Linked DNA regions of Homo sapiens. The protein of the gene in region 3 interacts with the protein of the main gene of each other region in a pairwise test. Each region holds a gene or a part of one and is shown on either strand. Other genes may lie near its edges.

Region 1 (3,652 bases), on a different chromosome or scaffold from region 3:
AGAGGGAGGTAAGGAACCTGAAAAAGAGGGAAGAAGGGGTTTTTGTTGGGGGATTGGGAGGGCAATGGGAATGAGTCTCACAAGCTTCCTGACAGGGGACCCAAGCCACACCACCTGCCCCCTCTAGCTTACAGCTAACTGGTTGTTGGGGCCTCTTCTCTATCTTCTTTTTCCAACAGCTACCAAGTTAGAAGTCTAAATGAAACCTTTCAGTGATGTCCATAATGGAAAACAGAGGCAACTTTATTCCATGAAGAATGAGACCAGGAGTGTATGTTTAGGTGAAGAGGGGTAGAGGAAGGGGAGAAAGTATCCATGGAACAGAGGAAGACCCTCGTTAGAGCATAATGGAGCCAAGTCTGAGGTCCAAACTTGATCTTGCCACTCATTAGATCTGTAACTCTGGATAGAGCAATAAATAAACACAACAGCGCTGGTCAAGTTTTCATATCCTTAAAATGGAGGTATAGATTCTTTTCCATGAGAAAGTCTGAGAGTGCAGGAGGATGATGTATGTGGCCAATAGTGCACTCTGAATAAATGCATTTCATGTGAAAACTCTTTGAACCTTGCTCCCACCTGACCCATCTGGAGTCCTGATGACTCTTCCTCCTTCCCCATGCAGGTTCCTCTGGCTCACAATATTTTTGGTCTCATTGGCCCCAATGCAGGGCTTGGCCTTGCCATAGGTAAGAAGTGCCCTCAAAGAAAACAATAAGCCCCTGCATGTTGGCTTTGGGTCTGATGCCTTTCCTCCCCCTTTTCTCATCAGAGGAGGTAGGTGCAGAGGCAGAAGGATCAGGAGGGCAGCTGGCAGGGTTGTGGAGAGATGAGCTCGTAATTCCCACCTGGAACAGGTGTTAGTCCGAGGCAGAAGACAGCAGACAAAGCAAATGGACTAAATGGAGGAGGAGAGGCGGGGTGGTACTAACTGTGGGTGGGGCTGACTGTGTCCTGTTTGCTCTGGCCACAGGCATGGTGGATTCTTCTATGATGCCCATCATGGGGCACCTGGTGGATCTACGCCACACCTCGGTGTATGGGAGTGTCTACGCCATCGCTGATGTGGCTTTTTGCATGGGCTTTGCTATAGGTATGTTGGCAGGACCTGGTGCCCCACTTTCCCCTGTCTACTCTTTACCAGCTGGAAGTGCAGCCAGGAAGCTATCCTCCTAGGGTTCTGGAGATCTTTGACGCTGAGACATCCTCTGGGTCACCCACTGCCCCTAGCATAGTGTCCTACGTGGAGGATGCTCCATATGGAGGCTCCATAGACACTTATGACTTTGATGTATCCCTCCCAGGTCCATCCACCGGTGGTGCCATTGTAAAGGCCATCGGTTTTCCCTGGCTCATGGTCATCACTGGGGTCATCAACATCGTCTATGCTCCACTCTGCTACTACCTGCGGAGCCCCCCGGCAAAGGAAGAGAAGCTTGTAAGGAGCACCGACTGTTAAAAGAGAAATTCACTTCTGTTTCTTTCCATCATCTCTCTCATTCCCTTTCATCCTGGGCTGTTATTTCCTCCCTCTATTGCTCTGTTGATACTCTCTCTGCTTTGCCATGTTTCCCAATCCCCTTTCATCTTCATATTTCTTTTGTGCACTTCCTTAATTTCCCTTCTCTAAGTAACCACTTCCCTCTTTCTGGGGCTATCAGGAAGGGTCTTCAGTAGAGAAGGGAAATGGGGGCAGAGGACCATCAAAGACATCCTGTAGTTACTGTTCTTAGCTTGCTAGTTACTAGCAAGATGTGAGTTACCAAGTTAACTCCCTCATAAGTGGGCAGAATTCCATTGGCACATCCGTTCATCCACTCATTCACTCTAGTGCAACATTATCCTTACCAGGTCACTTTTTTTTTTTTTTTTTGATGGAGTTTCACTCTTGTTGCCCAGGGTGGAGTGTAATAGTGTGATCTCGGCTCACCACAACCTCTGCCTCCCGGGTTCAAGAGATTCTCCTGCCTTGGCATCCCAAGTAGCTGGGATTACAGGCATGTACCACCATGTCTGGCTAATTTTTTGTATTTTTAGTAGAGATGGGGTTTATCCATGTTGGTCAGCAGGTCACGTTTTTAAAAGTACAAAAACCCCAGGGAAGAGATCCATACCATAGGATTTTCTTTAATAAAGCACTTTCCTCTTACTGCAGCACAAACATCCTGAGGGCCTGATGGGTTTGGGATACCGACAGAGGCTGCTCAAGGGAACAAAAGAAGACATGAAGGTGTGATAGGGAGTGGTGGTGATTCCATTTGGCTTCCTGCTGTAACTTTCACTACCACTGTTAAATTCAGTTAAAAGCAAATGAGATACTTGTCCTGACAAGGGTTGATATACTAGGTACCCCGGGAGGCTGGTGCATGTACATGCAGAGGGTCCTATGCATGTTTCTTGAGTACTTAGCAATGCCAGCCTTGGAAGAACTAGTGGGAGGACGGAATGAGGAGATTGGTAAAAAAAAGATGTGCGGTGGTTGGCCGGGCGCGGTGGCTCACGCCTGTAATCCCAGCACTTTAGGAGGCTGAGGCGGGCGCATCACGAGGTCAGGAGATCGAGACCATTCTGGCTAACATGGTGAAACCCCGTCTCTGCTAAAAATACAAAAAATTAGCCTGGCGTGGTGATGGGCGCCTGTAGTTCCAGCTACTCTGGAGGCTGAGGCAGGAGAACGGCATGAACCCGGGAGGCGGAGCTTGCAGTGAGCCGAGATTGCGCCACTGCACTCCAGCCTGGGCAACAGAGCGAGACTCCGTCTCAAAAAAAAAAAAATGATAATAATGTGCAGTGGCTTCTCTTCTTGCCTCTCTCTGCAGGCTATTCTGAGTCAGGACTGCCCCATGGAGACCCGGATGTATGCAACCCAGAAGCCCACGAAGGAATTTCCTCTGGGGGAGGACAGTGATGAGGAGCCTGACCATGAGGAGTAGCAGCAGAAGGTGCTCCTTGAATTCATGATGCCTCAGTGACCACCTCTTTCCCTGGGACCAGATCACCATGGCTGAGCCCACGGCTCAGTGGGCTTCACATACCTCTGCCTGGGAATCTTCTTTCCTCCCCTCCCATGGACACTGTCCCTGATACTCTTCTCACCTGTGTAACTTGTAGCTCTTCCTCTATGCCTTGGTGCCGCAGTGGCCCATCTTTTATGGGAAGACAGAGTGATGCACCTTCCCGCTGCTGTGAGGTTGATTAAACTTGAGCTGTGACGGGTTCTGCAAGGGGTGACTCATTGCATAGAGGTGGTAGTGAGTAATGTGCCCCTGAAACCAGTGGGGTGACTGACAAGCCTCTTTAATCTGTTGCCTGATTTTCTCTGGCATAGTCCCAACAGATCGGAAGAGTGTTACCCTCTTTTCCTCAACGTGTTCTTTCCCGGGTTTTCCCAGCCGAGTTGAGAAAATGTTCTCAGCATTGTCTTGCTGCCAAATGCCAGCTTGAAGAGTTTTGTTTTGTTTTTTTTCATTTATTTTTTTTTTTAATAAAGTGAGTGATTTTTCTGTGGCTAAATCTAGAGCTGCTAAAAGGGCTTTACCCTCAGTGAAAAGTGTCTTCTATTTTCATTATCTTTCAGAAACAGGAGCCCATTTCTCTTCTGCTGGAGTTATTGACATTCTCCTGACCTCCCCTGTGTGTTCCTACCTTTTCT
Region 2 (3,652 bases), on a different chromosome or scaffold from region 3:
CAGCCTATCAACAAATGAGGCAATATGTAAAAGTGATTAACTGAACTAATAAATTTTTTTATGCTTAGGTCCAGTAAGTCCCAAGACTTTTAGAGAGAATGCAGTATGGTAAAACTGAAATAATACCTCTCAAGAAGACAGATACTTGGGTTCTAGAGGATCCACTCACAATCAACAAGTCTCGATTTCCATAGTCCTTAGATCCCTCAAATATAAATTAGGAAAATTATTTTACCTGCCTGAAGTTGAGACCAAACTAAATAATCTCTTGAATAGTATGATTCTATAAGTGACTGAAAGTGCAATCTTGCTTCTGAAATTTGAGCTACTGTCAAAAGCGCTCAGCAACATTGTGAACTGAGCATATGGCCTTAACTCCAGGGTGCATGGGTAGGCTGGGGTAAAGAAAAGACAGAAAAATTAAAAGCCCAGGCCCGTGCCACTTATGGGAGTGGGGCCTGAGTTTATGCAACCCATGCAGAATGAAAATTCCAAGGTGAAAAAATAGTATGAACTCAAATATCTATAAGAATTAATGAACACTAAAGATAATACTTCAAGTATTAGGAAAAAGGGATTATTCCCCTGTTGGGGAAACATGTTGGGACAACTAGATAACCTTCTGTTAAAAAACACAACCCCTTGGGAGGCCAAGGCGGGTAGATCACGAGGTCAGGAGTTTGAGACCAACCTGGCCAAGATGGTGAAACCCTGTCTCTTATACTAAAAATATAAAAATTAGCCGGGCACGGTGGTGGGCGCCTGTAATCCCGGTTACTCAAGAGGCTGAGGCAGGAGAATCGCTTGAACCCGGGATACGCAGGTTGCAGTGAGCCGAGATGGCGCCACTGCACTCTAGCCTGGGTGACAGAGCAAGATTCCTTCTCAAAAACAAACAAACACCCACCACCCCACCAAATTTGGACTCTAATTTCACATCTTAAAGCAAAATCAATTTCAAATGGAACTAAAAAACTGAGACCACAGAAGTACTAAAAAAACTACAGATTTTTAAAAACAATTTTAAGTGCATAAAGTCTTTAAATATAATACATAACTTAGCAGCTATAAAAGAAAAGATAAATTTGAATACATAAAACCAAAACTTTGTGTGGTTCAAAAAAACACCATAAATAAGTAAAAGGACAAACTAGAAAAAATATTTGCGGCAAAGGCTGATTTACTTTATAAAGAACACCTAAAATCTGTACGATCAATATGATGATTGAAAAACTGCAGCAGGGCTGGGCGCAGTGGCTCATGCCTGTAATCTCAGCACTTTGGGAGGCTGAGGTGGGCGGATTGCCCGAGGTCAGGAGTTCGAGACCAGACTGACCAACATGGAGAAACCCCGTCTCTACTAAAAATACAAAATTAGCTGGGTGTCGTGGCGCATGCCTGCAATCCCAGCTACTCGGGAGGCTGAGGCAGGAGAATCGCTTGAACCCAGCAGGCAGAGGTTGCAGTGAGCCGAGATTGCATCATTGCACTCCAGCCTGGGCAACAAGAGTGAAACTCTGTCTCAAAAAAAAAAAAAGAGAAAAACTGTGGCAAAGGATATATGAATAAACAATTTGTAGAAAAGGCATCATAAATGACTCAACTTTTTAAAAAGAAGTCCAACCTCATTAAGTAAATGAGAAATGTAAATTTAAACAAATATTGAGATACCATTTTAACCTCTCAAGAGTGACAAAGACCAAGAAGCTTAATACCACGTTTTTGGCAAGAAGTGAGAAACAGGCATTTTCATCAAGTGTAAATTGGTCCAACCTCTCTGAAGGGCAGTTTAGAAACAAGAATCCAAATTAAAAATATCCATACCCCAAGCCTCGGTAATTTTATTTCCAGGAATTTACTTTATAATCATAATTTTACACACATGTGTAAAATGACATGTACATATTTATTGCAGCATCATGCAATAACAGGAGACTGAAAACAAATGTTAACAGTGGACTGTTAAATTATGACTTATTCATAAAATAGAATATTATGCATGTATTCAAAAGAATAAGATGGCTCTCTATACTGATGTCAAAGGCTCTTGTGATATTAAAATATTGTGAAGGGTATGCATAGTATACTATAATTAGTGTGGGGGGAAAGGAAGATATCCACATGCTTGTACTTGCACCCAAAATAGCTCTAGAACAATACGTAGACTGGTGCTTTGCTGCTATGGAAGGGAACATGGTGGCTGGGACTAGTTGTGGGAAGTAGACTTATTTTTCACTGTATATCCTTTTGAATTTTCTATTTTGAGCATGTATTACTTAATTTAAAAAATCATTGTTTTAACTTACGTGAGGCCCTATTTTGCAACATACCCAAAGCACTTTACCTCTTTCACAACTTAGGGCTCATGGAATTTTACAGGAAATACTCCAAAATTAAAAAAAGTAACTACTGAAGATAATAAGTTCACAATAAAAAATATAAACTACATGAAGAAACAAACCATCATGGAGGAGTGGGCACATATAACAGATACAGAAGCAGATTAAAGAACTAAAGTAAATTTGCTTAAAATTATTAAGAAATGGTACAAAAGGAAAGATTAAGAGACATTAAGAATAGAATGAAAACCTAATGTATATCTATTAACAGTTCCAGAGGAAGGAACAGAGATAATGGAAGAGGCAATAAGTAACAGCAAATTTTCTGGGAAAAAAAAAAAAAAAAAAAAAAGGACAATATATCCACAGACTTGAGTAGAGTTTGGTACATGGTAAATAAAATCAAATCCATACCTGGACAAATCCTAGTAAAATAGCAAAACCCCAAAGACAAAAAGATCTCAACTACAACCAAAAGGAAGAAAAAGATTAATAAAAGTAAAGAGAAACTACAAGCCGACTCCTCACCAACAAGTGGAAGACAGTGGCATAACGCTACTCAAGAGTTGAGGTATAATAAGGTCAATTTACATTTTTTTTTGAGACAGGGTCTTGCTCTGTCACCCAGGTTGAGTGCAGTGGTGTTATCAAGGCTCATTGATCTTCTGGGCTCAAGCGATCTTAATACCTCAGACTCTTGAGTAGCTGGGGCCACAGGTGCATGTCACTATGCCTAGCTAATTTTTTATATTTTTGTAAGAGACAGAGTCTCGCCATATTGCCCAGGCTAGTCTTGAACTGCTGGGCTCAAGCAGTCCTCCCACCTTGGTCTCCCAAAAATGGTAGGATTATAGGCATGAGCCACTGCGCCTGGCCCAATCTACAATTTTATATTCTAAACCCAAACTATTATTCCTGAGTGAGGAAAAATAAAAAATTTTTTCCTGCCAGTGAAAAACTATAGGACACACCTCACTAAAATAAAAAGTGAACCCCAAAGAAATGAGATGCAAGAAACAACAGTGAATTAAAAAAATGATAACCATGTTAGTAAATTTAAACAAGGACTATATTAAAAAGATAATAATTTCATCAATTTTGGGGTGGAGTTTGAAAAAACAAAGTGAAGCTAAAGTCTAATAGTGATACTGTGGAAAACAGGATGGGGGAGGAATCAGAGTTAAAGCTTTCTAACCAGGGCCTCAACATATGACTATGTACAACGCAGGGGATACTATCCATATTTGTAGTCATGGCAGTTTTGCTTATTTATTAAGAAATAATCTGTCAAATGTCAGTAAAGTATCTTAAAG
Region 3 (3,652 bases):
GTATGATTGGGTATGGGAGGGGATGGTCAAACCCTCAAGGAAAGTATTCCACACCAGGCTTACAGAGAGGTATTTGCTGCCAGGTTTCTATGATTTGAAAAGCCATGCTTCCCCCAAGGCCGAATGACTATATTTCTCAGCCTCTCTTGTAAATAGGTGTAGGTGTGACCATGTCACATTTCATTAAAAGAAAAGGAGATTCATTCTTCCCCACCTCCTTTCTCCACCCTACTGCTTGAATCATGGATGAGATGGCTGGAGCTCTAGCAGCCTTTTGTTTCCTGAAGATGACAGCCAAACCCAAGAGATGGCAAAGAAATGAGCTAGAAAGTGTCTGCATCTCTGACAATTTCATGGAACCTCCATACCTCTCTCAGGCTACCTACTTCCAGACTTCTTTGAAAAGAGAGAAAAATAAATGATCTTACTTAAGCCCCTATCATTTGAAGATGTTCTCTTATACACAATCAATCCTAATCCTAACCAGAACACTAGCCAACCAGTCTACCCCATCCCCTGCCTTGTTCTACCCTTACCTTAGGTCACAGGGAATATTCTCCTCCCCGTTGCCTGTATTGACTTAAATCCTGCCCATCCTTTGGAGGATGGATCAGATTCTACCTCCCACCAGAGATTTCCCATCCGCTTCCTCCCTGAACTCAGACGCTGTCTGCCTGCCTCCCTTTGGGCACCTGGCCTGCTCTGCCTTCCAAGGGAGTGATTCACCCTTCCATATCTATCTCCTGACTCTTCGACCAGGCTCGGGACCATCAAGGCAAGGCCCATGCATTCCAGATCCTTGTATTCCCTGGGCCGGAGAGGCACTGGATACAATATCATAACGAATATCCCCACACTAAGCCTCTCTTACCTCTGCCCACACGAGGCAGATAAGGAGGGGGTGCCAGAAAGTATACAAACACATTTAGAAAAACGAGAAGGCAGGCGGAGTCAAAGTCAGTTAGTTAAAAATCTAAAACTATTTCTAATATTAAGATGTAGCCTGGGGGCAAGATCTGGTGTGTCTCTTTCAAACTACACAACCTAGATGTTAGACTGCCTCATGGCACGATGCCAGGAGGCCCCATTCATGTAGAAAACAACATGAGTGGCAACCCCCAGAGAGAGGTGAAGTGTCATGGTCATGCACCAGAAAAATGAGTCCTTTCAGAAAAAAATACCAAGTCACATGGCGCAGTGGCTCACACCTCTAATCCCAGCACTTTGGGAGGTGAGGTGGGTGGATCTCCTGAGGTCAGGAGTTCGAGACCAGCCTGCCCAACATGATGAAACCCCTCTCTACTAAAAATACAAAAATTAGCCAGGCGTGGTGTTGGGCGCCTATAATCCCAGCTACTCGGGAGGCTGAGGCAGGAAAATCGCTTGAACCCAGGAGGTGGAGGTTGTAGTCAGCCGAGATTGCACCACTATTTATTTTTTCACACTTGCAACATATTCTTCACAAATCGATGTCAATAACAAATTACTTTTGATTACTTAACAAGTATTTTTTTTCAAATATACTTTCTAAGAGCAAATACAGACAAGTTAAATGGTTCGCAATGAGCATAGTTCATTTGTAAAGACAGTATAATGTTTTAAAAAGTACACATTTTTTTCAGCTTATTGTCTGCAGCCACAATTGTTAAACTCAATCAAAGAGGCCCTGGAGGATTCGCCACTTAAGGCTGAAGTCGTAGCAAGTGCTGCCACGTTGGGGAAGATAGCGGCAGAGATAACCACTACTGGGGAAGTGTAAATGGAAATTTCAAATTTAGATTAAGCCTGAGTGGCGTGAAAACAAACCCAGCATGTTCAGGTGCAGTGTCCAGATGTTTTCAAAATGCCCTGATTGTGAGAGCTGAGAAGGGAGATGTGGAAAACAGACACTCTGGGGTCCTCACGGAAAGCAACGAGGCAGATTTGAAACCCACACTAAGGAGGCATTGTAAATGAACTCAAGAACATGAGCTTGGCACAGAAGGAACAAGTTGAGAGATAAGAAGTTTCCTGATTAAAATAACCCTAGTGCCTCTTTGAGATCTGCTTCTAGCACCAACTGACAGCTATTTCCAACGGCAGAAGACACCAAATGTCAATCTGTAACATGCTACAGGTCAATATTGCTTTCTTTCCTGCAGATGGTTTAAGCACAACTTAGCAACTCCTCTGCCGCCTCGTTTCTGCTGAAACTTCGCCGGGTTTTAACACGCCTGCCAAAACTGCCCCCTTCCGGGCCCAAGAGTCCAGGATTCTGTGCCAAGCCGCGTGGCCAGATGCCACTTGGGGATGGCGCCTGTGAGCACCAAAGCCTGCCCTTTTCGGGCTGAGTCACTACTTGTAACCACCAGGTGTCAGTAGCGAGTACGGAGACTCCCATCCGGAGTGCTCCGGGAACTTCAGCCAGACCCTAAAGGGGGAGAAACCGGATGCTGTGGCTTTGGGGACAAGCAGTGCTACGGTCACATTCTCAGGCACTCATGAGTATTTCATTTACTCAGTTGCCAACTCACCATGCAAACCCACCACGTAATTTCTGGGATGGCTTTAATTCAATGCCTTTCACACACTCAGAGACAAGATTAAGCACTGTTCTCACTCCAATAGGACTGGGACCTTTTCTCTGCTCCCTCCCCAACCCAGAAGGTAAAAACATAAAGCAGGGTTTTCTACTCCTTGCGTATCTTCTCCATGTAAATTACCAAATTATTATTTTAGCAGTTTCTATTTGTACTGTGGTTCAAGGAATTTGGTTTATAATGCTTCAGCTGGGGACATGCTTGGGTATTACTGGGTACTGAGCTGTAAGAGGGAAAGTCCAGCAAAGCAACTGGATTATGCAAAGCCAGGACCAAAGGCCACTTCACTGCCTGTTTTACTGAACTGGATCTAAACTGGTTTCTCTCGTCTGGTGTAGCATCTTGAACATATATACTGGATCTATGAGTAGCTCCAGCAACATTTAAAGCTGTATTTCCGTGGCCTTTTAAACCCAGGATGTTAGGAAAGCTCTGCTGTATCTCTAGGTCCTTCCAGCCTGAGGACACATCTTCTGGAACAAAAGATCATGTGGATCCAGGTCCACGGGCTCTTAACATCAATCGCTATGGCCTACCCAGCCACCAAAACAGCTCATCCTGTTTACCTCCACCTGTCTGCATCCAAACACACAGGGCTCCTGGCTGGGTGTTCCTTTCCCTCTGGGTGCCTTGGGTACCTAGTTGGTGCTTCTGCTGCCAATTATCCCTTAATTTGACCCTCATGAAGCCTGGCTTCCATATCTCACAAGCAAAGATGCTGAGGACAGAGGAGAAATACGATCTTCTGGATTAAGGACCCCAAGGCTTAGCTTAGGGTTTTGCAAATAGCTTCAAGTCCCCATCTTGCAACAAGGAAACATTCAAAGGTTTTGATGCTAGGTGGCATCACTGAGGCCCAAGACCTGGAAAGGCAGCCAGTCTTGTGTCCATGTAACTGACGGTGCAGTGAGCTAGCCCCACTGTCACTGCAGCAGAAAGGGGCAGGACATTTCTGAATAGAGACAGCCACCAAACCAAAGATACACGTTTGATCCAATGTCCCAAGGGGGTCTGCCAAAGGCTTAGCTATCATACCACCTTCACAGCTCCCAGGTCGATATTTTTTTCAATCA

What was found.
Region 1: the proteins of PMP22 (region 3) and SLC18A1 interact in binary tests that used the Homo sapiens proteins (3 or more experiments, as listed by UniProt).
Region 2: the proteins of PMP22 (region 3) and PGRMC2 interact in binary tests that used the Homo sapiens proteins (3 or more experiments, as listed by UniProt).

What each region holds. Positions count from the first base shown.
Region 1 is NC_000008.11:20,145,044-20,148,695, reverse strand, and holds part of SLC18A1 (chromaffin granule amine transporter), read left to right. Parts: intron 1-625; coding exon 626-689; intron 690-973; coding exon 974-1,093; intron 1,094-1,304; coding exon 1,305-1,438; intron 1,439-2,819; coding exon 2,820-2,933; 3' UTR 2,934-3,652.
Region 2 is NC_000004.12:128,277,685-128,281,336, forward strand, and holds part of PGRMC2 (membrane-associated progesterone receptor component 2), read right to left. Parts: intron 1-3,652. UniProt on the Homo sapiens protein: Required for the maintenance of uterine histoarchitecture and normal female reproductive lifespan. May serve as a universal non-classical progesterone receptor in the uterus.
Region 3 is NC_000017.11:15,255,175-15,258,826, forward strand, and holds part of PMP22 (peripheral myelin protein 22), read right to left. Parts: intron 1-3,652. UniProt on the Homo sapiens protein: Might be involved in growth regulation, and in myelinization in the peripheral nervous system.